Homo sapiens: one gene and its partners. The protein of the gene in region 3 purifies or fractionates together with the protein of the main gene of each other region. This does not show direct contact. Each region holds a gene or a part of one and is shown on either strand. Other genes may lie near its edges.

Region 1 (3,014 bases), on a different chromosome or scaffold from region 3:
GTTTAAGTCAGATGATTTCAGCAACAAACTCAGTTTTCCAATTTCCCTGGAAAAGTCGGATCTGTGACCTTGGCCGGTCCCCCAACAGCGTCTTTCCGTGGGGGACACCGGGTGGAGCTGAGTGCAGCTGCCCCTTGGACAAGGTCCCCCCACCCCCGGTCCTCACAATAAGTCAGCTGTCCTGGGCTGGGGGACTCATGCTGTTTTCCCCACAGAACAATCAAGAGGTGACAGAAACAGCTTTTATTCTCTCGCTCGTGTGCTAAGGAGGGAGACATGGGTCAAACCAGAGAGGCTCACGTTCTCCAAGTCTGCCCACCCCGGGGCCACAGAGCCCTCCCGCTTGCTGGGATACGACAGACAGGCTTGGTTCATGCAAATGCTCGTTACCAGGGCCAGACCCAATCTCAGCATCTGGAATAAACAGCTGCTGTTATGTAGCAACAGCCGACCCCTGGGCTGCTGGGCTGTGGTGCCAGCGTGAGTGCCCACCGGGCTGGGAGGCCGCCACCGCAGGGCTGGGTCCTGGGTCCCCATCAGGGCCACCCCAGTTCCTGGTCAAGTGCAGCCTCGGTCTTGTGTGTGCCTGGTGCCTGGGGCTGGGGTTGACCCTCTCACACCCAACCTGGGGGCCACACTTGTTCCCCCACAGCCTCCCAGGCTGGCCCCTGGCTTTACGTGCAGAGAAGCTGAGCCCCAGGTGGGGTGGGGGTGTCATCCACAGTCAGCGAGCATCCAGACCCAGGGCTGCAGGGAACCCTGGACGGAGACAGGCGTGCGGCGTAGGGGTGGCCAGCAGCTGTGAGGACCAGCTTGGACCTAACAGCTCACGTAGGGGTGGCCGGCAGGCCCTGACCACACCTCGGTCTCCTGCAGCTGGTGGTCCTGGCCGTGGAGCATACGGCCTTGGCCCTAATGGAGATCAAGGTCTGCGACGGCCAAGAGCACGTGGTCACCGTCTCGCTGAGGGACGGTGAGGCCACCCTGGAGGTGGACGGCACCAGGGGCCAGAGCGAGGTGAGCGCCGCGCAGCTGCAGGAGAGGCTGGCCGTGCTCGAGAGGCACCTGCGGAGCCCCGTGCTCACCTTTGCTGGCGGCCTGCCAGGTAGGTGCTCCCTGCTCCGCTCAACCCGGGTGAAGAGCTCCAGGGAGGCCCAGCTTGGTCACCCCAGATCTAACCTGGACAGGCTGGGGTTTCTGGTAGTGAATGCGGAAGAGGACTTGTGTTTTAAGAGGAAGGAGAAGTCCAGGTGGGTCGTTAGTGGCTATTATGGTGTCTCGGTGCTGGTCAGGTCATTGGCTGAGACTGAGAAACACGTACGGGGGCCGGCATTGGCCTGAGTCAGGCCCCACGAACCTGCATCTTCAGGGAGCATTCGTCCACACCCATCAGACCAGCCCCGGGGGAGAGGGCTGGGCAGACCTCGGGCCAGGCTGCAGTTGGGACCCGCGGCTGTCACCGCAGCTGTTAGCAGCGAACAGAGTGACCGCCAGCCCCTCCCATGTCCAGCAGGGCGTCCTGCCGTGTCCCATGGGCTACACAGCACAGAGGCTGGGACCGGGGATGTCCTTGCCATGAGCTGGGAGGGTCAGCGGAAAGGCACGTGGGAGCCGGCAAGTCCTCGGCTGCCCGCAGGTTTTCACTTGCGGCAAACGGCAGGATTTCTCTCTTGGCTGCCAGACACAGACTCCACTTAGTTTTAATAAACAGAGCTTTGAAGAGGATGAGAGCGAGCCAGGAGGCCTGCAGCCTGAATGACTCACTGGGCACAGAAGAAGATCACGTTTAACCGATGGGACTGTCTGTGCTCCCAGCGGGGAAGGGAGGGCTGGCGTCTGCAGAGCCCAGGCTGGCAGATGCCTCCTGCTTGTCTGCCGGGTCTGCGGCCAAACGAACGGGGACCGAGAAGTTAGAGAAGAAAGGGAAACCCTGCCCTTTCGGAGGGAACCCGGGGCTGGCCACAAGCGCTGCCGGGGGTGGGGGGGCCAGGCGGGGCCGGCCACGTGGTGAGCTAAGATATGTTGTTCTCTCCCTGCGGCCCAGATGTGCCGGTGACTTCAGCGCCAGTCACCGCGTTCTACCGCGGCTGCATGACACTGGAGGTCAACCGGAGGCTGCTGGACCTGGACGAGGCGGCGTACAAGCACAGCGACATCACGGCCCACTCCTGCCCCCCCGTGGAGCCCGCCGCAGCCTAGGCCCCCACGGGACGCGGCAGGCTTCTCAGTCTCTGTCCGAGACAGCCGGGAGGAGCCTGGGGGCTCCTCACCACGTGGGGCCATGCTGAGAGCTGGGCTTTCCTCTGTGACCATCCCGGCCTGTAACATATCTGTAAATAGTGAGATGGACTTGGGGCCTCTGACGCCGCGCACTCAGCCGTGGGCCCGGGCGCGGGGAGGCCGGCGCAGCGCAGAGCGGGCTCGAAGAAAATAATTCTCTATTATTTTTATTACCAAGCGCTTCTTTCTGACTCTAAAATATGGAAAATAAAATATTTACAGAAAGCTTTGTAACACCGCGTGGCCGTCATCTGCTCCCCGCGGGGTTCTGCACACGTAGCAGCGTTTGGGATGAGCGGGGCTGCCAGGGCTCCAGGCCGCACCCTCAGCCGCTCCAAAGATCCCTCCCTCTTTTCTGCTCCCAGCCTGGTTGGGCAGCCACGGTCTGCTCCCCAGGAGCCTCTGACTCCTCTGGTAGTGGCGGCAGGGGCTGGAGCCTCAGTTTACTTGTTCTGTAAATGCGGAGAACGCCCTGCTCGGCCCCCACCACAGGCAGCCAGTCATTGCTGAGTGAGGAGGGCTTGGCACACAAATGCAGGCTGCTGGGGCAGCGGCCTCTGAGCCAACCTGGGAGGGACCCCGAGCTGGGACCGAGGGCCGGAAGACACCGAGGCAGCGCCTGCACCCCTGTGCCATTCCCGTCCCCACCCTCCTGCACAGATCCACTTGCTTCCGGGCCTCAAGTGTGTTCTGTTGAGAAAGGGAAACTGCTTTCTCTGTGTCGGTCTGGGGTA
Region 2 (3,500 bases), about 180 Mb from region 3:
CCCGGATGGCATCCAGTATGATACTTCCTTCTTTGCTGAATAAGAACAGCATGGGGATCTTGATGTCATCTGTATCCTTTCCATCACCTGCCATCTGGAACAGAGGGGCAGTATCACTGCTGCTCCCCTCATTGTCATCTAGCCAGAAAATAAATACAGCAAACATCAAAATATCCAGCCATTAAAAAGATCTATCTACTAATTGTTACTGATTTTTTACAATGACAGAATTAATTTTATGCATCAAGAACCATAAAAACCAACATAATTTTTGGACCCATTAATTCTCATAGAAACGTATCCAAAGGAAATAATTCAAAAGTAGCGAAAAGCCCTATGCCCAAATAATTTTACTAGACTATTTATAATTGTAAACAACTGTACACCATTATAAGTAAATTATAATGACCTACTTGATAGGACACACAGAATAATAATACATTTAAAAAGTAGAATACAGAATTCTATGATTATGACTATAAAAATTTCATATGCTTATGGAAAAGCCTAGAAAGGAAAAAATCAATGACTCGGATTACAGTGATAGAACTATGAATGAATTTTATTGTTGAAAATTTCCACTACTGGCATGATTACATTGTTTTACCAAACTAAAAATGGACATTTCTTTTTTATATAATGCACACAAAGAATAGTTATGACTATAGTGCTTCTTCCTCTATAAGCTAAACTAAACAGTATTGCTATTTTGCATTGGTTAAATAATAGTAGTAGAACTATTAATAGTAGTAGTACCAGCAACATGCTGTTTTACTGAAGACGACAATCACGACCACCTCCAAATCGCATGCCAGTCTCCCAGAAGAAACTATCTGTCCTGTCTCAGGGTGCTCACTCTCATAGGACCTGCTAAGTGCAGAATGCATGACCCATCCTCTTGGTAATAATTGATTAGACAAAAGATGGCTACCTGACCCTGAGTCTCTCTGGGGGACCTGGAACTGGCACACAGAAAGACTGTTTCAGTTAGCAGGGGGTAATAGTCCAGTTGAATGACACAGACTTAGGGGCTGAGGCTGCAAACTAGAATGGCCATTTTGGAACTGAGGAACAAAGAGAGAGAAGGCTGGTGAGAAGCTGGAAAATGAAGCAGAATTGCAAAGAGAAGCAGGGAAGAAAAGTTCAGAAGGACCCAGAGGTAGAGATACAGAGAGAAAAGTGAAAAACATTCACTATCATGGATCCTGGTGATTTTTAGTTCCCACTTCTACCTCCTGGTGAATCCTAGTTGTATTTGTACTGTTTAATTCACTAAAAATAATCCATTTCTGTGTAGTGAAAAAACCTCCCTTCTTAAACCAACGTAATTATCTCCTGCAGCCACATGATTTCTAAGATAATTCGTATTTCTAACCCTTGCAACAAAAAACAGCTAATTCCTAATTTATTCATTTATATACAATTAAAACAAAAACAAAATGCTTTGTCAGAAACAAAAAACTCAGGAGAAAGAAGTCAACACAAGAAAGTTTCTCATTAAAAATTAAATTTTTGGCTGGGTGCGGTGGCTCATGGCTGTAATCCCAGCACTTTTGGAGGCCAAGGCAGACCACTTGAGGCCATGAGTTTGAGACCAACTTGGCCAACACAGCGAAACCCCTTCTCTACTAAAAATACAAAAATTAGCCAGGCTTGGTGGCACGTGCCTGTAATCCCAGCTACTCAGGAGGCTGAGGCATAAGACCTACTTAAACCTAGAGGTGGAGGTTGTAGTGAGCCAAGATCATGCCACTGCACTCTAGCCTGGGTGACAAAGCAAGACTCTGTCTCAAAAAAAAAAAAAAAAAAAAAAAAAAAAAAATTTCTGAGAGTAAGGATCATCATCTCTTATTTATTTATCCACAGAACCCAGTATACCATTTTCCAACTAATAGCTACCAAAAAAAACATTTGACGGGCCAGGCTTGGTGGCTCATGACTGTAATCCCAGCACTGTGGGAGGCCAAGGCAGGCAGAACACCTGAGGTCAGGCGTTCAAGACCAGCCTGGCCAACATGGAGAAACCCCATCTCTACTAAAAAGAAAAAAATATATATAAAAATTAGCCAGGCGTGGTGGCAGGCACCTGTAATCCCAGCTACTCGGGAGACTGAGGCAGGGAGAATTGCTTGAACCTGAGAGATGGAGGTTGCAGTGAGCCAAGATCACGCCACTGCATTCCAACCTGGGTGACAGAGCAAGACACCATCTCAAAACAAACAAAACAAAAATTGACAATTATTGCATACTATAGAAGATCATGAGAATTAGACTTCACTGAAAAATATAAAAAACCAAAATACTACACAAAGAAATATTTTTAAACATTAATGCATAAATTCTACACTTTATACTTTACATTTTCATTTTGAAGTCTTGGTAAGAACTGTTCAAAATGATAGTGATGGTTAATATAATAAATTCTGCAATAAAACTAATCTAAGTGTGGGAAATACCCAAGGATAAAGAGCATGATTTAAGTCAGGGGTCGGCAAATCTCTTCTGTAACTGGCTAGATGATGAATAAATATTTCAGGCTTTGTAGTTCTCTCCTGTAAGTACTCAACTCCATCACTGCAGTTCAAAGCAGTCATAGACCATACACAAACAAATTGGCATGACTGTGTCCCAATAAAACTTTTATTTACAAAAATGGGCAATGAGCTGGATTTGGCCTATAGTCTTGTAGTTTGCCAACTGCTGATTTAAGTCATTAAACAGGACTTCTCCTAATGTTTATTAATAAAATTTATGCATCCATTAAATCAACATAATAAGTGTTAATATTCTGTTTTACCTGAACTATTTTTTTTTATTTACCTTAACTATTGGGCGGCAGGGGAGGGGGGAATCCAAAATGGATTTCCCTGTGAGAGAAGCTGTACAAAAGAACTCACAATCAGCATATTGTGAGCCCAGGTCTTACAGTTCTTTCTGAATGTAAACTCCTATTTACTTTAAAACAGAAAAATTTATATTTCCCCTAATAGTCATGGCCTGTTTATCATGATATAAGTGATTGTCTATGAAAGATAAAAAAGCAAAACCCACTAGTTGATACATATAGGTAAGATGATTTAAAGGTGGTAACTTGTCATTTCGGTAGAAAAAGATCCAAGGGGATAAAGATCTGCTAGCAATACTGTAAACCCTGTTATAGTAGCACTTATCCTATGTCTGCTATTATGCCAAGAAATTTTATATATCTTTAAACCTTACAATCACCTAAAATATATTTATTATCACTTCCACTGGAGCTCAAAAATATTCTACTATCAAATAAAAAAAAATTATACTATTTAATCTACAGATTAAAAAACTGAAGCTAGGCCAAGGTTACACTGCAATTTTGTGGTAGAGCCAGGAACTGTACTCTCATGTGTCTGCCTCCAAAGCCTGCATCTTTGTGGAGTAATGGAAATTTTCAATGGCTCCCCACTGGACGTGGCACAGTGTAATTCTTGCCCTTCGGGGGTTATGGATCTCATGGGCACCTTTTC
Region 3 (3,500 bases):
ATATTGGCTATTTTTTTTCCCTCGGCACTTTGAAATTATGTTTCCACTCCCTTCTGACTTTCACTGTGGCTGTTAAATCAACTCTCTGTCTAATAATACTCTTTTCATGATAATCTGTCTTTTCTTTCTGGCTAATTTTTAAATAGTTTCTTTGTCTTTGATGATTTCAATGTGATGCGTTTACTGCAGGATGTTGTGTATACACACACACACATATCTACACACCCAGAGAGAGAGAGAGACAGAGAGAGAAACTAATTGGCATTCTTGAATATATGACTTGGTATCTCTTCCTGAAAATTGTCAGCCAATATTTTGTCAAATCATGCCTCTTCCCTACTCTGCCTCTCTTCTCCTTCTAGGATTTTGATTAGACATTTACTAGACCTTTCCAGTACACAATGTCTCTTCACTTCTTTTCATAGTTCCATCTCCTTTTCTCTGTGCTGCATTCTAGATAATGTTATTGGCTGTCTCCAATTTACTAATTCTCTCTCAAACTGTATCTAACATGCGTTAAACCCATTCATTGGGTTTTTGTTTTTGTTTTTTTGAGATGGAGTCTTGCCCTGTTGCCCAGGCTGGAGTGCAATGGCATGATCTCAGCTCACTGCAACATCCGCCTCCTGGGTTCAAGCGATTCTCCTGCCTCAGCCTCCTGAGTGGCTGGGATTATAGGTTCACACCACTATGCCCGGCTAATTTTTTGTATCTTTAGTAGAGACAGGGTTTCACCATGTTGGCCAGGCTGGTCTCGAACCCCTGACCTCGTGATCCACCCGCTTTGGCGTCCCAAAGTGCTGGGATTACAGGCTTGAGCCACCGTGCCCAGCAAACTTTTTTTTTTTTTGAGACAGGGTTTTGCTCTGTTGCCCAGGCTGGAGTGCAGTAGTGCAATCTTGGCTCACTGCAACCTCCACGTCCCAGGTTCAAGTGATTCTTCCACCTCAGCCTCTGGGGTAGCTGGGATTACAAGCGCCCCACCACCACGACTGGCTAATTTTTTGTACTTTTAGTAGAGACGGGGTTCCACCATGTTGGCCAGGCTGATCTCAAACTCCTGACCTCAGGTGATCCACCCACTTTGGCCTCCCAAAGTGCTGGGATTACAGGCATGAGACACCACAACTGGCCTGGATTATTAATTTTTGATACTATTTTTCCATTTCTAGAAATTCTATTTGAGTTTTTGTCCCAAGTCTGGATGTCCATTTTTATACTTTTTTGCTCTTTTCTCATATTTAAACCTTTTATTTCTTTATACATGTTAAACATTCTTATGTCATATTAATTGTCTGATAATTCCACTAACTGAAGTCTTTGTAGGTCTGATTCTGCTGGTTCTCATCTATAATGTCTTTTTTTCTCATATGTTTTGTATTTTTTTTTCTTAATTGAGCTAATTTCAAGTAACTTTATTTGTGAAAATTCTTCTAGGTCTGGATTTAAGGTCATTTTCCCAGAGATAATTTACCATTTGCTTTTGTCAGGTGTCTGGGGGCACTTCTAGCCTGACTGGCAACATTTTGGAGTGTGAGTGTCCTTGAGCAGGGGTCTTTTCCACCTTTTTCTAAGGAAATGAAAAGTTTAAGAAAAGGAGATGGCCGGGTGCAGTGGCTCACACCTGTAATCCCAGCACTTTGGGAGGCTGAGACAGGCAGACTGCTTGAACCTGGGAGTTTGAGACCTGCCTGGGCAACATAATAAAACCCTGTCCCTACTAAAAATAAAAACTAGCCGGGCGTGGTGGCACACTCCTGGAGTCCCAGCTACTCGGGAGGCTGAGGCAGGAGAATTGCTTGAACCTGGGAGGCGGAGGTTGCAGTGAGCTGAGATCGTGCCACTGCACTCCAGCCCAGGTGACAGAGCGAGACTCTGTCTCACAAAAAAAAAAAAAAAAAAAAGGTTGGCTAGACGAGGCACAGTAGCCCTGCACACAGAAAATACTGTAGGACCCCTTAGTTGTTGACGTTCGTTGAGATGCTGGGGAGAACCCTTGTTAACCAGGCAATCGAATGGGAAGACTTCGGCAAAGTGATACCATACATTACCTGTGTCCTGGAGAGCTTGACAAAATCTGCCAGCACAAACCAGTGGACGTTCTCAGTGCAGGGAGGCGTGGTGAGTGAGCCATGGTAGGTGTAGTAGTGCTGGAGGTTCCTGGGCAGCATGTCCTGAACGTCAAGGCCAGTCAGGGTTGTTCTTTGTCCTGACCAAGAAGACAGAAGGTAACAGAATGTCAGGGACCAGCGCTGCCCCTCGGGAGGACAGCTCAGGCCCAGGCCTCGCCAGGTTCCAATCTCTTGAGTTCAGCAGAACATAGAAGCTGATGATTAAGAAACAATTTCCCAGTTTACTTCTTCCTGGAAGGGATTGAGAGGAGAGACTTTGGGGATAGACGCACTCAGACACCTGCTCCTGGCTGAGTGCTCTTGGCCGGGTGCTCACCCTGCGGCCATTTTCTCATCTGTAGAAAGGGAATAATCAGCAGGATTGTTGTGAGGGTAAGAAGGAATAACGTCTGGAAAGCAGCTGGCATTGAACCACTACATAGGGAAGTACTCCTAAGTGTAACTGCTGCGGTCACCATTATCATGGCTAGGCAGAGGACACATTTTATGATCAATGAAAGAAATAAATATGGCCCCTGGAGACTTCTGGGTAAGTGCCCTTGAAGAAAGACCAAAATGCCTTGGTTTGGGCTCATTGAGAAGTGGGTAGACAACAGTTGTAAATGCAGAATCAGGCCAGGCGCAGTGGCTCACGCTTGTAATCTCAACACTCTGGGAGGCCAAGGCGGGAGGATTGCTTGGGGCCAAGAGTTCAAGACCAGCCTGGGCAACACAGGGAGGCCCCGTCTCTACAATAAGTTGTTTTTTTTATTATTTTTTTAAATAATAAATGCAGAATCAGAACCAAGCCAGGGTCCAGGTACAGGCATTTGGTCCTGAGCTCTTCCTGCCACAACCGCTGGAAACCAAGCCCAGCCACAGGTGGGGCGTAGGGTGGGGCCACTTCCACCAGGCCTGCAAAACTCCTGCAGCAGCCACACCTGCTCCTGCTCTAGAGAGGTCCTTGTTTCATTCATGTCAACAACACTGAGCCCCTGAGCTCAGCACAAGACTCTCAAGGCAACACAGGATTGAGTTGGATTTTGCTTCACTTTCCCTGAGCACTTCTGCGCTTCTTAAAGGCAGAGAACATAGTTTTGATACATACGTAGATAGGCCTGTTCAACCAAGGCCACAATGTCTCAGAGTGCATAAGCCCATGAGTAGGCAAAAGAGTTCTAAGTTTGATTATTATTGGAAGATTTCAAGATATAACCTCCAAAAGGGCTCTGTGGTAGAGATTTATTTTTGTAACTCTAATATATTTAAGTGAAAGTCAAGAATTCCAGAATCATGATGCAGCCACCACGGAAAATGGTATAATAGTTCCTCAAAAAATAAACATACGGCCAGGTATGGTGGCTCACACCTGTAATCCCAGCACTTTGG
Region 4 (3,500 bases), on a different chromosome or scaffold from region 3:
CACTCCAGCCTGGGACAGAGAGCGAGACTCCATCTCAAAAATAAATAAATAAATAAATAAATGACTAAAGTGATAAATTTTATATTATGTGTATTTTACCACAATTAAAAATTTTTAAAGTCTTCCATTTAAACATGCACAACCTCTTCTATGAGTCACTATTACCAGCTCACTAAATTCTAGGCCAAGTGCAGTGGCTCACGCCTGTAATCCCAGCAGTTTGGGAGGCTGAGGCAGGAAGATCTTATGAGCCCAGGAGTTCAAGACCGGCCTGGACAATATAGTGAGACCCTGTCACTACAAAAAATAAACAAAAAAAATTATGTGGGCATGGTGGCACACGCCTGTGGTCCCAGTGACTCAGGTGGCTGAGGTGGGAGGATTGCCTGAGCACAGGAGTTTGAGGCTGCAGTGAGCTGTGATCGCGTCACTGCACTCCAGCCTGGGCAACAGAGCAAGACTCTATCTCTAAAAATAAATAAATAAGGTCCAGCACGGTGGCTGACGCCTGTAATCCCAGCACTTTAGGAGGCCGAGGCAGGCAGATCACGAGGTCAGGAGTTTGAGACCAGCCTGGCCAACATGGTGAAATCCTGTCTCTACTAAAAATACAAAAATTAGCCAGGCGTGGTAGCACGCGCCTGTTAACCCAGTTCCTTGGGAGGCTGAGGTAGGAGAATTGCTTGAACCTGGGAGGGGAGGGTTGCAGTGAGCTGAGATCGCACCACTGCACTCCAGCCTGGGCGACAGAGCGAGGCTCTGTCTCGAAAAAAATATAAATAAATAAATGAATAAATAAATTCTAAAATCCTTAACCCAGCTTTCGAAGCCTTTACAGTCAGATCACAACCTTTTCAAGCTCACTTCCCTTCTCCTATCTGCACCCACCATAGGCATCAACCACACACTTACCCTAGTTCCCATTTCCAGAAACTTCCCCTCTTTTAAACATGGTTAGAATCATGTAAAATAAGGGTAAACCCACCAGGTCTTGTCAGCATGACCAATGACTTTCTTCTGTGTCCACCCTCCAGTCTTCACTCGCTCATCCTTCAAGGCCCATCTCAAATGCCACCTCCCCCAGGAAGCCCACTTGACTCTTGACATCTGGCACTTTGTACCATGTGTCGGCTGCATCTGTCTCCCAAATTTGGCAACTGACAGCCATTCAGAGCGGACTGTGTCACGTCCCTCCTGAGTGAGTGAGTGCCTCTATCAGTGTCTTTCTCATAGAAATTACTAGAGAAATTAGGAACAGAAACAATGTGGGCCGGGTGCAGTGACTCATGCCTGTAATCCCAGCACCTTGGGAGGCTGAGGCGGATCACTTGAGGTCAGGAGTTCGAGACCAGCCTGAACAATATTGTGAAACCCTGTCTCTACTAAAAATACAAAAATTAGCTGGGCCCTGTGGCTCATGCCTGTAATCCCAGCACCTTGGGAGGCTGAGGCAAGAGGATCACTTAAGGCCAAGAGTTCAAGACCAGCCTGGGCAACATAGTGAGACCCCCATCTCTACCAAAAAAAAGAAAAAGAAAGAGAAAAATTAGCTGGATGTAGTGGTACACACCTGTAGTCCTAACTATTTGAGAGGCTAAGGTAGGAGGATCACTTGGGCCAAGGAGGTTGAGGCTACAGTGGGCTGTGGTCACACCACTCCACTCTAGCCTGGTCAACAGAGCAAGACCCTGCGTCTTAAAAAAAAAAAAACAAAATAAAATTTAAAAAGAACCCGGCTCACCATGTGCTCATCATGTATTCTTCCTGGGATTCACCAGGACTCTCTTAGAGCCTAAAAAGTGAGAAGCTATTTGCCATTTCATTTGATGGCTGAACTGGCTTTGCCTTTTTGTTTCTTTCTTCTTGTGCAATGACACCTGTCTTCTCATCTATTAAGCAAGGCTAGTTACTAGCTGCCCAGGATTGTTGGAACTATGTGTAAAGTAAGAGTAAACTGGGACCGAGAGTCTACTGGGTCCCCAGGAGCAACAAGAACAACCTTTTCCAGGCTGGATGCAGTGGCTCATGCCTGTAATCCCAGCACTGAGGGAGGCCAAGGTGGGTGGATCACTTGAGGCCAGGAGTTCAAGACCAGCCTGGGCAACATGGCAAAACCCCGTCTCTATTAAAAATACAAAAACTAGCCAGGCATGGTGGTGCACGCCTGTAGTCCCAGCTACTTGGGTGGCTGAGGCATGAGAATTGCTTGAACCCAGGAGGCAGAGGTTGCAGTGAGATGAGATCGTGCCACTGCACTCCAGACTGGGCGACAGAGTGAGACTCTGTCTAAAAAAAAAAAAAAGAGAGAAAGAGAATAAGCTTTTGTATACAGTCTTCATGGAATCTACTCTCCCTACTCTCTGCTCTTTCCTGGTGACTTCTTGGTTTGTGGCTGCACTCTGGATGGATGAAGTTGCAAGACACACTGAGGTGGTGTGCACCTGTAATCCCAACTACTTGGGAGGCTGAGGCAGGAGAATTGCTTAAGCCCAGGAGTTCGAGGCCTGCCTGGGCACCATGGCAAGACCCCATCTCAAAAAGAAAAAAAGAGATAGAATGGGCTTCCACCTTGGCAGGGAGGACATGTCAATGTTCTCAGACAAGAGTTCCCTAGATATGGGAATAAAATGTTCCTGTCATGACAAGTTTTTTCCCAACACAGCCAGACTCAACTCCTCCAGAAGTTAAATCTACTCCACCCCTTGAAAGCACAAACTACCACCCAGTGCTTGTTGCATAGTACAACGCTTGAGATACAGAAGGCTCTCAATGAATGCTCTCTAAATGAATACATGGGCCGGGCGCGGTGGCTCACACCTGTAATCCCAGCACTTTGGGAGGCTGAGGCGGGTGGATCACCTGAGGTCAGGAGTTTGAGACCAGCCTGAACAACAATATAGAGAAACCCTGTCTCTACTAAAAATGTAAACATTAGGTGGGTGTGGTGGTGTGTGCCTGTAGTCCCAGCTACTTGGGAGGCTGAGGCGGGAGAAGAGCTTGAACTCGGGAGGTGGAGGTTGCAGTGAGCCGAGATTGCACCACTTCACGCCAGCCTGGGCGACAGAGTGAGACCCCGTCTCAAAATAAAATAAAATAAAATAAAATAAAATAAATGAATACATGCATGTAGGAACAAATGAAAACAGCACATTACTGTCTCTCAGGCACTAACACTGAATCCTGGGGCTACAAAGTCATTGCCCACACCAGCCACTGGGCTCATCAGAAACCCACACATACCAGGCCAGGCGTGGTGGCTCACGCCTGTAATCCCAGCATTTTGGGAGGCTGAGGCAGGCAGATCACCTGAGGTCAGGAGTTCGAGACCAACCTGACCAACATGGAGAACCCTCGTCTCTACTAAAAATACAAAATTAGCTGGATGTGGTGGTGCATGCCCGTAATCCCAGCTACTCGGGAGGTTGAGGCAGGAGAATCACTTGAACCCAGGAGGCAGAGGTTGCGGTGAGCCGAGATCGCGCCACTGACCTCCAGCCTGG
Region 5 (3,500 bases), on a different chromosome or scaffold from region 3:
TGATTTAAAGACAAAACTAAGGAAGTAAGCGTGTGACACAAGACTGGCCAGGGGTTCAGGCGGGAGGGGGGTTCAGGAGGGAGGCGGATTCAGGCAGGTCCCAGTTGCTGGGGCCCCCACGCCCCCTGTCCTGCGTGGGCCAAGCGGGGAAGGAAGGAGGTGTTGGCAGCCCTGCGCGTGCACAGGCTCGGGGTAGAATGGGCTACCCACTCTCTCTGGCCAGCAAGGCCCCTGGACCCCCTGGGCACTCAGCCTCTGGGCCTGGCCACAGGACAGCACCAGCCACTGCCTCAATGCTCAGAGAAACTGAGGCAGAGACACGTGGGAGGGGGCAGGTCAGGCCCCAAGGATCCTGCAGTGATGACCTCACCTACTTTAGACACCCAGCCTAGGTGGGGACTAAAAGGGCATAAGGCCCAATGCCTGCAGAAGACCTGAGGCCAGGCCCCTGCAGTGCGGCTGAGGCTGTTCCTGAACTACGCTCACCTGCCTAAAACCTCACCACAGGTCCCCATAAGCCAGCCTCTGGAAACCTCCACCACCTTTCCTGAGGGGGGAAGGGCCACCTCCCACTCCAGGTTTTTCTGTGGCCCCAGGTGGCACTGCCCACCCCACCCTGCATGCAGGCGTCTGCACCAGGTGCCCCACCCCTGCTGTAGCACCCAGGTCCTCCCTGCCTCCTTTAGGGAGACCTTGAGGGAACAACCCCAGCCCCCTGGGTCTCCCCAGTTCTCCAACAACCCTGCTGGTGGCTGCACCCAGAGGGGCCCTTATCTGTCCCAGGGAGGGACCTGAGGCCCTGCGTGACTGCCTTACCCCACCCACTGGCCAACCGCTTCTTACAGCACAGCTCCCAACTGCTGAGCAAACAGCTGCTTCCCAGGGACCACTGGGGCCCAGGTTGGGCTGGGGTGGAAGCAAGGGCTCAGACTCTGGAGGACAGGGCAGGGGCTTCGAGGAGAAATCAGACTTGGAGAGGGCATCCCAGGTGGAGGCTATGGGGGTATGAGACCCTGGAGCCTGTTCAGCTCTGCCCGAATCTCACACTCAGGGGTACGAGACCCCAGAGCGTTCAGCCCTGCCCGCATCTCACACTCTGGGGTACGAGACCCTGGAGCATTCAGCCCTGTCCACATCTCACACTTAGGATGTCTCCTACTCTCTGGCCATCCCAACTACATTCCACTCCCATTTCACCTCCAAATGGGGGCACTGCAGCCCAGTCTTCCCTGGGCTCACCCAGGGCTGTGGGGAACTAGCAGCGCTTGGCAGACGGCTTCCACAAGGAGGTACCTTTGGTGGGGTGAGTGTCCAGGGTCTCCTCCCTCCGGGGCTGTGCCCCATCAATGTCAGTGTCCTCGTCTTGGGGAAATGGAGCCCCGGCACATCAGCTGGTTCTGCGAGACCCTCGGCTTCAATCCCACATGGACAGGAGAAGTAGAGCCTGTGGCTTCTGTTCCCCGGACAGAGTCAGGCTGCCCAAGGTGCCAGGGCCGGGTTGGCCTTCCAGCCCCACCCGAGGGACCCACCGCAGCCTCCTGGCCTCCCTTGGGATGGGAGAGCACTGAGGGCTGCAGCCCCTCGTTACACTCACCCTCCGGCCACAGGTGCCCCGTGCAGGCTCCCACCCAGTACTCACTGTCAAAGTCGGGGGGACCTGAGGCTCCCAAGGAATTTTTTTTTTTTTTTTGAGACAGAACTGGCCGGGCACGGTGGCTCACGCCTGTAATCCCAGCACTTTGGGAGGCCGAGGCGGGTGGATCACAAGGTCAGGAGTTCAAGACTAGCCTGACCAACATAGTGAAACCCTGTCTCTACTAAAAATACAAAAATTAGCCGGGCGTGGTGGCACACGCCTGTAGTCCCAACTACTCAGGCGGCTGAGGCAGGAGAATCGCTTGAACCCGGGAGGCAGAGGCTGCAGTGAGCCGAGATTGTGCCACTGCACTCCAGCCTGGGCAACAGAGCGAGACTCCATCTCAAAAAAAAAAAAAAAAGACTTGTAGGCTGGAGTGAAGCGCTACAAACATACCTCACTGCAGCCTGGACCTCCAGGGCTCAAGCAATCCTCCTACCTTAGCTTCCCAAAGTGCTGGGCCAATGACAGCGTTTGTTTTTGAGACGGGCTCTTGCTCTGTGGCCTAGGATAGGGTGCAGTGGCCTAATCATACCTCATGGCAGCCTCAAACTCCTGGGCTCAAGCCATGCTCCCACCTGAGCCGCTTGAGTAGCTGGGATACAGGCACACACCACCACACCCAGCTAATTTTTTACTTTTAATTTTTTAAAGGTTGGGGGGCAGGGGGCGGCCGGGTGCAGTGGCTCAAGCCTGTAATCCCAGCACTTTGGGAGGCCGAGGTGGGTGGATCACGAGGTCAGGAGATCAAGACCATCCTGGCTAACATGGTGAAACCCCGTCTCTACTAAAAATACAAAAAATTAGCCGGGCGTGGTGGCGGGTGCCTGTAGTCCCAGCTACTCGGGAGGCTGAGGCAGGAGAATCACTTGAACCCGGGAGACAGAGCTTGCAGTGAGCCGAGATCATGCCACTGTACTCCAGCCTGGGCAACAGAGCGAAACTCCGTCTCAAAAAAAAAAAAATTAGCCGGGCGCGGTGGCGGGCGCCTGTAGTCCCAGCTACTCAGGAGGCTGAGGCAGGAGAATGGCGTGAACCCAGGAGGCAGAGCTTCCAGTGAGCCGAGATCACACCACTGCATTCCGGCCTGGGTGACAGAGCAAGACTCCGCCTCAAAAAAAAAAAAAGAAAAGGTGGGGGGCGTCTCACTATGTTGACCAGGCTGGTCTTGAACTGCTGGCCTTAAGCGATCCTCCTGTCTAGGCCTCCCAAAGTGTTGGAATTACAGGAGTGAACCATCGTGCCTGGCTAATAATTCCTTTTAAAAAGCAGCTTACCCTTATTTTCACGTGTGGGCCTAATTTAGTTCACTTAAAAAAATCATTTATCTTCACCCCAGCCCTATGAGGCAGGCACTGCCGGTCCTGGTCTGTGGTAGAGGGGAGGGCAGAGGAGCCGTGAGGGTGACCAGGCGCTGTGGGTCGGTGCTGGGTCCAGTCAGACCAGGACTCCTGGCCAGTCACGGCACCTTGACCCCGGCAGTCCTCGCCCTGGGCGGTGAGCACCACACACAGGGCTTACGCGAGCACACACGCATATGCACGCACCGGCAGCCTTGGGCTGAGCCGGCTGTCAGCCTCTGCCCTGCTCCAGCTTGGACCAGGCTGGCTCCTTGCAGGACCAGGAGGGTGTCCGGCGACTGGACACGGAGACCAAGCCTCCCTCAGCCCCGCCTGGGTTTGAAGGCTGCTGCACTCGACCCCAGACCCCAGAGCTGAAGGTTTACCTGTGCTCAGCCCCTGAGCCCCCGCCTCCCGCTGGTCCCTAAGCCCCCCCGGCAGGGCCGCAGAGCCACAGCTGCAGCGGCTCCTGGGAGGCTGGGAGCTCCTCAGAGGCCCACACAGCTCTAACTCCTACAAGCCCC
Region 6 (4,217 bases), on a different chromosome or scaffold from region 3:
TGAAATCTCGATCGATGACTCATAACCTCACATGAGTTTGCAACTCCAACTGCACCATCTGGCTGTCTGAAAGTCAAGTAGACAATATGGTTCAAAGCAGTTCACGCTGGGCGCGGTAATCCCAGCACTTTGGGAGGCTGAAATTGGGTGATCGCTGGAGGCCAGGAGTTCGAGACTAGCCTGGGCAACGTGGCAGAACCACGTCTCTACAAAAAATAAAAAAATTAGCCAGGTGTGGTGGTGTGCACCTGTCATCCCAGCCACTTGGGAGGCTGAGGTAGGAGGATCGCTTAAAGCCAGGAGTTCCAGACCAGACTGGGCAATATAGCGAGACCTCATCTCTATAAAAAACATTCTATTAACTATCCAGGAGCGGAGGCAGGCGTTTGTAGTCCCAGCTAGTCAGGAGGCTGAGGTGGGAGGATTGCTTGAGCCCAGGAGATGGAGGCTGGTCCACCCTGGGCAACAGAGAAGACACCCTGTCTCAAAAAAAAGGGAGCCAGGCATGGTGGCTCATGCCTGTAATCCCAGCACTTTAGGAGGCCAAGGCAGGCGGACTACGTGATGTCAGGAGTTTGAGACCAGCCTGGTTAATACGGTGAAACCCCATCTCTACTAAAATTACAAAAATTAGCTGGGCATGGTGGCACGTGCCTGTAGTCCCAGCTACTTGGGAGGCTGACGCAGGAGAATCACTTGAACCTGGGAGGCAGAGGTTGCAGTGAGCCAAGATCGCACCACTGCACTCCAGCCTGGGCGACGGAGTGAGACTCTGCCTCAAACAAACAAACAAATGAGCAATAGACAAAAGGTAAGTGCAGCTAGGCGACAAAAGGGAAGTAAGCGGAGGCTGGGACATGGTCAGGGACCTCGTGCGCAATGCTCAGGAGTATGGCCTCAATTCTAATTCTATTTTTTTTTTTTTTTTTGAGACGGAGTCTCACTCTGTCGCCCAAGCTGGACTGCAGTGGCATGATCTCCGCTCACTGCAAGCTCCGCCTCCGGGGTTCACACCATTCTCCTGCCTCAGCCTCCCGAGTAGCTGGGACTACAGGCGTCCACCACCACGCCTGGCTAATTTTTTTGTATTTTTATTAGAAACGGGGTTTCACCGTGTTAGCCAGGATGGTTTTGATCTCCTGACCTCGTGATCTGCCTGCCTCGGCCTCCCAAAGTGCTGGGATTACAGGCGTGAGCCACCGCTCCCGGCCAGTATGGCGTCAATTCTAAGGGCAACAAGGAGCTATGGGAGGGTGCTGAGCAGGAAAATTCAGCAAAGGTTCCCAGAGGGAGAGCCTGCCCTGGCTAAAAGGGGTCCAGTATGTTCTGGGCAGCTTGAGCTTGACACTGCAAGTCTTTCTGAAGACCAGGTGAACATATGGATGGGGGGAGTGGCAGGTGGGCAGGGAACAGATGGTAGGACCTTGAGTGCCCAGCTAGGGGCTGAGTCTTCCTTCTGCCAAGGATGGGCTGGCCATGGAAGGTGTCTGAGCAGAGGGCACAGTCAGATTTCCACATCAGAACAACCAAGGAGCCGGGGGCAGGGGGCCATGGCATGCAGAAGGGGTGAGTTTTAGAAAGTTCAGAACCAGTCAACTTACGGTGGGATCTTTCCCATCTCCACACCCTCTGTGCCCTCCTTACAATGGGTTCAGTCCCTCTTGCTACTCCATCTTACAAGGAGCTGTGAAGGTGTTGAGCCCTGCCCCGCTAGCCGGCGCTCACCTGCTCCCACGTGGTGCTGTTCCTGAGGTCTGCTCTGATAGAAGCCCCCAGCAATGCCTGTTTCATCCCAGAAGGACCCCCAACGGCTCGTTTGAGCAAGTCCCTCAGAGACACCGCAAAAACCCTCCAAGGATCCTTGCACAGGACACCAGAATCTGCCCCCCTAGCATGAATCCAGTGTCCCAGTCTCCAGAAGAGACCCCCCAAACAAGTCCTGGAATACACAGCAGCCTCCCGACACACTCCGAACAACTCCCAAACCCAAAGTCCCACACAGACCCCAAAATCTCAAACAGTGCCCCAGCTGTAAACGATCCCGAGGAAACTCACACCTTCAGAAACCCGGGAAGTCCTTTATAGAGCAGCTCGCTCATCCCTCAGAGAAAGCCCTAGATAGACCCAAAGTGTCTTGGCAACCCCCCAGAGACTATCTATTGGGTCGTCCCTGTGAGCCCCGGTGACCTACTGGAGAGCCCCCTGAAGTCTCTCACAGTTATCACGGCTCCAAAAAGACCCCCACACCGCCACGGATTTCCAGTCAGCCCCAGCTCCCTGGAATTTCCACCAGTTGCCCAAAGACCCCCAAATTGCCCCCCAAATCCCCTGAGATCATCTCCTAAGCAGCCTGCAACGCCCGAAGCACCTTAGAGGCTACTCATCTTCCTCGAGAAATCCTTAAAGTGTCCCCTGTAGCCCCCTCAGAGACCCCCAACTGGTCACCCTCTCAGGCCCCGCCCCCGCCCAGCCCTCGGCCCAGCCCCGCCCCCAACCTACAAAGCACCCTCAGCTCTCCGGACCCTCCAAGCCGTCCCCGCAACCCAGCCCTGCACCGTGCGCCCCCAGAGCCCTCAGCCCCGCCCCCAGCCCTGGACGGATCCCGGCAACACTCACAAGAGGTCTCGCCTCGCGGTCTTGCAGACGATGCGCAGGAAGCGCCAGCCGCCGCTGCCCACGTACACGCCGAGCGCCGCTGCCGCGCTCCAGGTCCACGGCAGCCCCAGCAGCCACAACAGCGCCAGCGAGACCACCGAGGCCGCGCCCGCACCCGGAGCCCGCATCCTGGGGAAGCAGAGAGAGCTGAGGCCGCGGGCCGCTCCAGCCCCGCCCCACGACCCGCTCCGCCCCACGACCGCCCCCGCCTCTACAGCGAGCCGCGCCCCCAGGCCTCGGCTCTGCGCCCCCCGCGAGTCCGGGAACGCGCTCCGAGTCAGACTCCGCCCCCAGGCCTGGGATTGGTCAACTCCTCAGGCCAGGCATCGCCCCTTTCCAGGCTTTTACACCCGCCCGCTAACTAGGAACCAGACCAGGGCCCCAGGCCTGGGATTGGCCAGGTCCTGGCCAGGCTCCGCCCCCGGACCCTGGGTCCGCTCTATTCCATATTTTTGAGCCCATCCTTCCCTGCCAATCTTACAACAGTCCCCGCCCCCAGAGCCAGCATGTCCACCTTGTCGGTCACTGTCAGGCCTCGCCACATGCCTTCATCTAGCCTCTATCCTCGATCCCCGAATTACCCTTCACGTCCTGTCCCCTTTCCTCCTGGTCCTGCCTCTACCCCGTGGCCTTTTCACCACTCACTGGGCCCCGCCCTTAGGTTATGCTTCTAGCCCAGCCCACAGGTACAAGCCCTCTCCCCGAGTCCCGCCCCTCTCAGCCAGGCCCCACCCCCTAGGTTAGACATATGCCTCCCCACCCCCCCGCAATAAGCACACGCCCCACCCTCCCGAAACTAGAGCCCTCCCCAATCCGTTCAAGCCCCACCCCAGTTCCGGGCCTAGCCCAAGTTCCCAGGCTCAGGTTCTATCCTGGCCACGGGCCCCGCCCTCAGGCTTTGGCTCGGTCGCCACCTCCTGGGTTTCACTCCGGCCCCCCTAGGACCTAGGCCCCGCCCCTCTTCCCTCCTGTCTACTTCGAAGCCCCTCAGCCCGCAGAGCCGAGGCCGGCCGTCTTCCAGAAGCCACGACCATAGAGAGGCAACCGGACCGGAGAGGCGACGGCCAAAGAGACATGGGTGCTAGAACGGCCCGCCAGGGTCGTCCGCTGTCTCCATGACAACCAAGCCTTGCCCCACCCCCTCTCCTTTTAGGAAACACACGTGTCCTGCAGCCTTGGGGCGTGGCTCGCAAGATATCAGGACCCGAGCCCTAGTTGGCGTGCAGGATCTCTACCCCGGGGGACCAAAAATATCCCAGTCCACACCCACGGCCCGCGCGGGCTGTATTCTTGCTCCAGCTTGTCCTAAATCCAAGCCCCAAAGCCTCTTTCGGTCTTAAAAACACGTTCCAGGGCCCGGGGGAGTGCTCAACTCACACCATTGGGGCCTCAGAAGTCTCTAACTGTAAACACCGCCGCGGTCTTAACACGTGTGATTCAAGGACACAGCTAATTCTTAATCCATGTCCCGAAGCCTTGTCGGTTAAGTCTCACCGTCACACCCCAGGATCCCAGGGAGGACAAAATCCACACGCCAGGTCCCCATCCTTCCTAGAAGCACC
Region 7 (3,500 bases), about 170 Mb from region 3:
AGCACTCTTCTCTACCTCCCTGCCAGGGAGCTCATCCAGTCCCACAGCTTGAGCTCTGATGCTACTAATGACTATAAAGCTAATCTCTCTATTCCCCACCTCTCCCTGGAACTCCAGACTCAACTGTGCACACCTCCATTGGGAGGTCTATTGACACAAAGCGGGCCATTGATTCCACCATCCCAACCCGAGCCCCTGACTCCTCAGCTTATGGGACCATCATCCACCAGAGGCTCAGGCCCCACAACCCTGGAGTCCACCCGAGTCCTGCTTCCCACATACCCTTCCTCCAATCTATCAGTAAGTCCCTCAGCTCTGCCTTTAACATATCCCCAAATCTGACCACTTCCTCCAGGGGCACACTGACAACCCTAGTCCAGGCCCAACCACCACTGCTGGGCGAGCATGCAGCTTGCTCCTCAGCTGCCCTGCCTCCCCCTGCCTGCAGTAGCCCATCCTCCACCTTTCTAAAGTGTTAACCAACTGTCACTTCCGTTAGCCTCTCCAGTGGCTTCTCAAAATGCCAACACCAACCTCCAAACCCTGCCCTCGCCAAGGCCTCTGAGCCCATGAGCGCTCACCTCCGCCCCCGGCCTGTCTCTGCAGCCTCACCTCCCTCCCTCCGGCCACAGCAGCCTTCTTTCAGTGCTGCCCACACACCAGGCTTGTCCTTTGCACCTGCTGGTCTCCAGCCTGTGCTATGGGCTGAATTATGTCCCCCCAAATTCCTATGTTGAAGCCCTAATCCCCAGCCTCTCAGAATGTGGCCGTATTTGGAGACAGGGTCTTTAAAGAGGTAATGAAGGTAAAATAAGGTCATTAGGGTGGGCCCTAATCCAATAGGACTGGTGTCCTTGCAGGAAGAGGAAATTTGGACATGGATTGGGAGAGGGACAACTGCACGGAGACACAAGGAGAAGACGACCACCGCCCAGCCAAGGAGAGGCTCGAAGAAACCAGCACAGACACCTCCACCTTGCACTTCAGCCTCCAGAACTCAGACAACAGACGTCTACTGGCTGAGCCCCAGCCTGACATTTGTGAGTGCAGCCCAAGGACACCAACACAGCCTGGGAGACTCTCTTCCCAGACGTCCCACACTGCCTTCTCCTCTCCACATGGGTCCCAGCACCGGGCCCTCCACAGGGAAGCCTTTCCCAGACCCCTCTCCAGACAGCACCCGCTCCGGCACTGCTTTGCTTTGTCTTCCTCAGCATTCGTCATCATGGCTGAAGCCATCCCTCTGTGTCTGTCTCCTGCCACTCAGATACTGGCCCTGTGGGGGCAGGGACCTGTCTCATATGCTGCTGTGTCCCCGGCACCTGCAGCGCCACATGGCATGGTGGAGATGCTCCATACACACTGGCTTCCCACACCACTGCCTGGCAGTTCCTCTGATTCACGGGGCTCCACACAGGCTGCTCCCTCTGCTGGGATGCTCCTCTCCTGGCGGAATCCCTACTCACCCATCACCCCTCAACTCACCCCGTAAGGCCTCGGGCCCCTTCCCAATGGCGTCGAGCCTGCCCTCTCTTCACCCCACATCTTTCTCTCCACCACGGCCCTAGCCCTGATGCACTGCAGGCCTCTCTGTCCCCCTGCCTCACACTAGAGGTCCACCAAGAGCGGGCACTGTCGCCCTTTTCACCCATGTATCTATCCTCCAAGCCAAGCCGCAGCCTGGTATAAACCTGGTTCCTCAATCAGTGTGGACTGAATTGGATGCGCATCCTTTCAGTCTTCAAAAGCAGGTGTGGGGCAGCGTGGCCGGAGAACATGGTGGTGCAGTTTGTGGACAATCCGAGGCAGCAGGGGAAACGTGTTTCCCCAACTTCCCCCAGGAAATTGTTTTTCAGTGGGAAGTGCAATAAAATTGCTCAAAGCACCTGCTATGTATCAGCTATGTAAACTGTAAAATACACGTTTTTTTCTTTGTTAAGAGTATAAAAAAATAGAATCACAATTTTTTCATGAAGACTGAAAGCAAAGCAAACTATAAGCCCGGAGAAAGACAGGGAGAAGCCTCAGCCCCAGAGCTCCCGGGGCCGAAAACAGGACTGGTTGAATTCCTAAAGTCTGCTCCCTCCTGGGATTGGTTCTATTCTGGCCGTGTGGGGCTACCTGCAGATAGAGCAATCCAGCCAGAGCCCCAAGGCTGACTCTCCCCATCTTCTGGCAGCTGGGAGCCAGTGGGGCAATTCAAGGGAGCTTCCCTGCCCCCTCTCCCCTTGGAGGGCCGAACAGAGCAGGGTTGGAGGCACAGTGGGGTGAACGGGTCCTGGACGTACCTGCTTCCTGTGAGTGGTCTACATTTTGCCGAGCTGCCTGCACAGTCAAGAAGTGGAAGAGGACCCACAGGGAGCAGGGAAAGCCCCGGAAATGCGGCTCACTCCCCTGGCAGCCAATCCAGTTCACCTTCTTGGCAAGAACGGCACCCTGAGGGACACATGAGTGTGAGTGCACATATGGAGAAGGAAAAGGATGGGAGAGGCAGAGACAGAAGCTTCTAGGAGACAGCCCTAAGACAAATGAGGTCCCTCAGTCTATCACCTCGAAGGTGGCATTTCCCTTTCACCAGTTCCACCCACTGAAGCAGCAGCAGACCTAAAAAGCTGTGACCCAGATCAAGCTGCATCCCGTTCCAGCCTCAACTTCCCCAGCTGTAACACAAGGGGGTTATCTCTGAGGTCCCTTCGAGATTTGACACCCTACAAGTCTACAGGGTTTTACACCTCTGCTGGCTGCAGTGACCCACTTTTGCAAATAGCAGCATGAGCAGGAGCCCAGAAGGTGCCCTGGAGAGGGCCAGGGAGGCCATGCTGAGCAGCACCACAAACTAAGAGGCAGCACAGGGTAGTTGTTAAAAACTCTGGGGTCTCACCAAGTTTTCATCCCAGCCCAAACACTTACTGGCTCCATGAACCCAGACAAGTTGCTTAACCTTTTCAAAGTACTGTTTCTTCATCTGCTAAATGGGGAGAATATCTACCTTCCACTAACATTATGAGGATTAAATGAGATGTGCGCATAGAGAGCTCAATCAATAGTCATTTATTGATTATTGTTAGGACCCAACGAAGATCACTGACTCCCTGGTGCAAACTGGCGAAGAAGGTCAGAAATGACAGGGTTAACCCCTTGCACTCTCATAAATACGGAGGATGGAGAGATCTTTATTTGCTTCCCAGACTCACCTCTTTCCTGTCGTCCAGGGCAGTTTTAAAGAAACTGTAGGGAATTTTATTTCTCTTCTGCCTCTTGAGCCATTCATTCACGGAGTGCAGGAAGTTCTGGACTAAGGGCCGGCCAGGGAAATACTGTGGGGAGGAACAAGCGGAAGCTGGAGAGTGAAAAGCAATTCCCCAAGTTCCCCGTCCTGCAGATGGTAGGAAGCTATGCAGAAGAAGGCGGGGGGCGGGGGGCGGGGGGCAGTGGGGAGGAGGTTGTGCAAAGTTCCAAAACCACCAGGAAAACATTCTAACTAAGACACAAATATGACT

The links.
Region 1: the proteins of CA6 (region 3) and GAS6 purify together in Homo sapiens (affinity purification with mass spectrometry; one large-scale study listed by BioGRID and IntAct). This does not show direct contact.
Region 2: the proteins of CA6 (region 3) and EDEM3 purify together in Homo sapiens (affinity purification with mass spectrometry; one large-scale study listed by BioGRID and IntAct). This does not show direct contact.
Region 4: the proteins of CA6 (region 3) and OLFM2 purify together in Homo sapiens (affinity purification with mass spectrometry; one large-scale study listed by BioGRID and IntAct). This does not show direct contact.
Region 5: the proteins of CA6 (region 3) and IDUA purify together in Homo sapiens (affinity purification with mass spectrometry; one large-scale study listed by BioGRID and IntAct). This does not show direct contact.
Region 6: the proteins of CA6 (region 3) and SLC27A1 purify together in Homo sapiens (affinity purification with mass spectrometry; one large-scale study listed by BioGRID and IntAct). This does not show direct contact.
Region 7: the proteins of CA6 (region 3) and QSOX1 purify together in Homo sapiens (affinity purification with mass spectrometry; one large-scale study listed by BioGRID and IntAct). This does not show direct contact.

Annotation. Positions count from the first base shown.
Region 1 is NC_000013.11:113,820,049-113,823,062, reverse strand, and holds the end of GAS6 (growth arrest-specific protein 6 precursor), read left to right. Parts: intron 1-876; coding exon 877-1,105; intron 1,106-2,044; coding exon 2,045-2,199; 3' UTR 2,200-2,514; downstream 2,515-3,014. UniProt on the Homo sapiens protein: Ligand for tyrosine-protein kinase receptors AXL, TYRO3 and MER whose signaling is implicated in cell growth and survival, cell adhesion and cell migration.
Region 2 is NC_000001.11:184,702,859-184,706,358, forward strand, and holds part of EDEM3 (ER degradation-enhancing alpha-mannosidase-like protein 3 isoform 2 precursor), read right to left. Parts: intron 139-3,500; coding exon 1-138. UniProt on the Homo sapiens protein: Involved in endoplasmic reticulum-associated degradation (ERAD). Accelerates the glycoprotein ERAD by proteasomes, by catalyzing mannose trimming from Man8GlcNAc2 to Man7GlcNAc2 in the N-glycans.
Region 3 is NC_000001.11:8,966,368-8,969,867, reverse strand, and holds part of CA6 (carbonic anhydrase 6 isoform 1 precursor), read right to left. Parts: intron 2,210-3,500; coding exon 2,052-2,209; intron 1-2,051. UniProt on the Homo sapiens protein: Reversible hydration of carbon dioxide. Its role in saliva is unknown.
Region 4 is NC_000019.10:9,926,516-9,930,015, forward strand, and holds part of OLFM2 (noelin-2 isoform 2 precursor), read right to left. Parts: intron 1-3,500. UniProt on the Homo sapiens protein: Involved in transforming growth factor beta (TGF-beta)-induced smooth muscle differentiation.
Region 5 is NC_000004.12:993,544-997,043, reverse strand, and holds part of IDUA (alpha-L-iduronidase isoform a precursor), read right to left. Parts: intron 1-3,500.
Region 6 is NC_000019.10:17,469,107-17,473,323, reverse strand, and holds the start of SLC27A1 (long-chain fatty acid transport protein 1), read right to left. Parts: upstream 2,801-4,217; 5' UTR 2,784-2,800; coding exon 2,617-2,783; intron 1-2,616. UniProt on the Homo sapiens protein: Mediates the import of long-chain fatty acids (LCFA) into the cell by facilitating their transport at the plasma membrane.
Region 7 is NC_000001.11:180,189,369-180,192,868, reverse strand, and holds part of QSOX1 (sulfhydryl oxidase 1 isoform a precursor), read right to left. Parts: intron 3,318-3,500; coding exon 3,195-3,317; intron 2,437-3,194; coding exon 2,289-2,436; intron 1-2,288. UniProt on the Homo sapiens protein: Catalyzes the oxidation of sulfhydryl groups in peptide and protein thiols to disulfides with the reduction of oxygen to hydrogen peroxide. Plays a role in disulfide bond formation in a variety of extracellular proteins.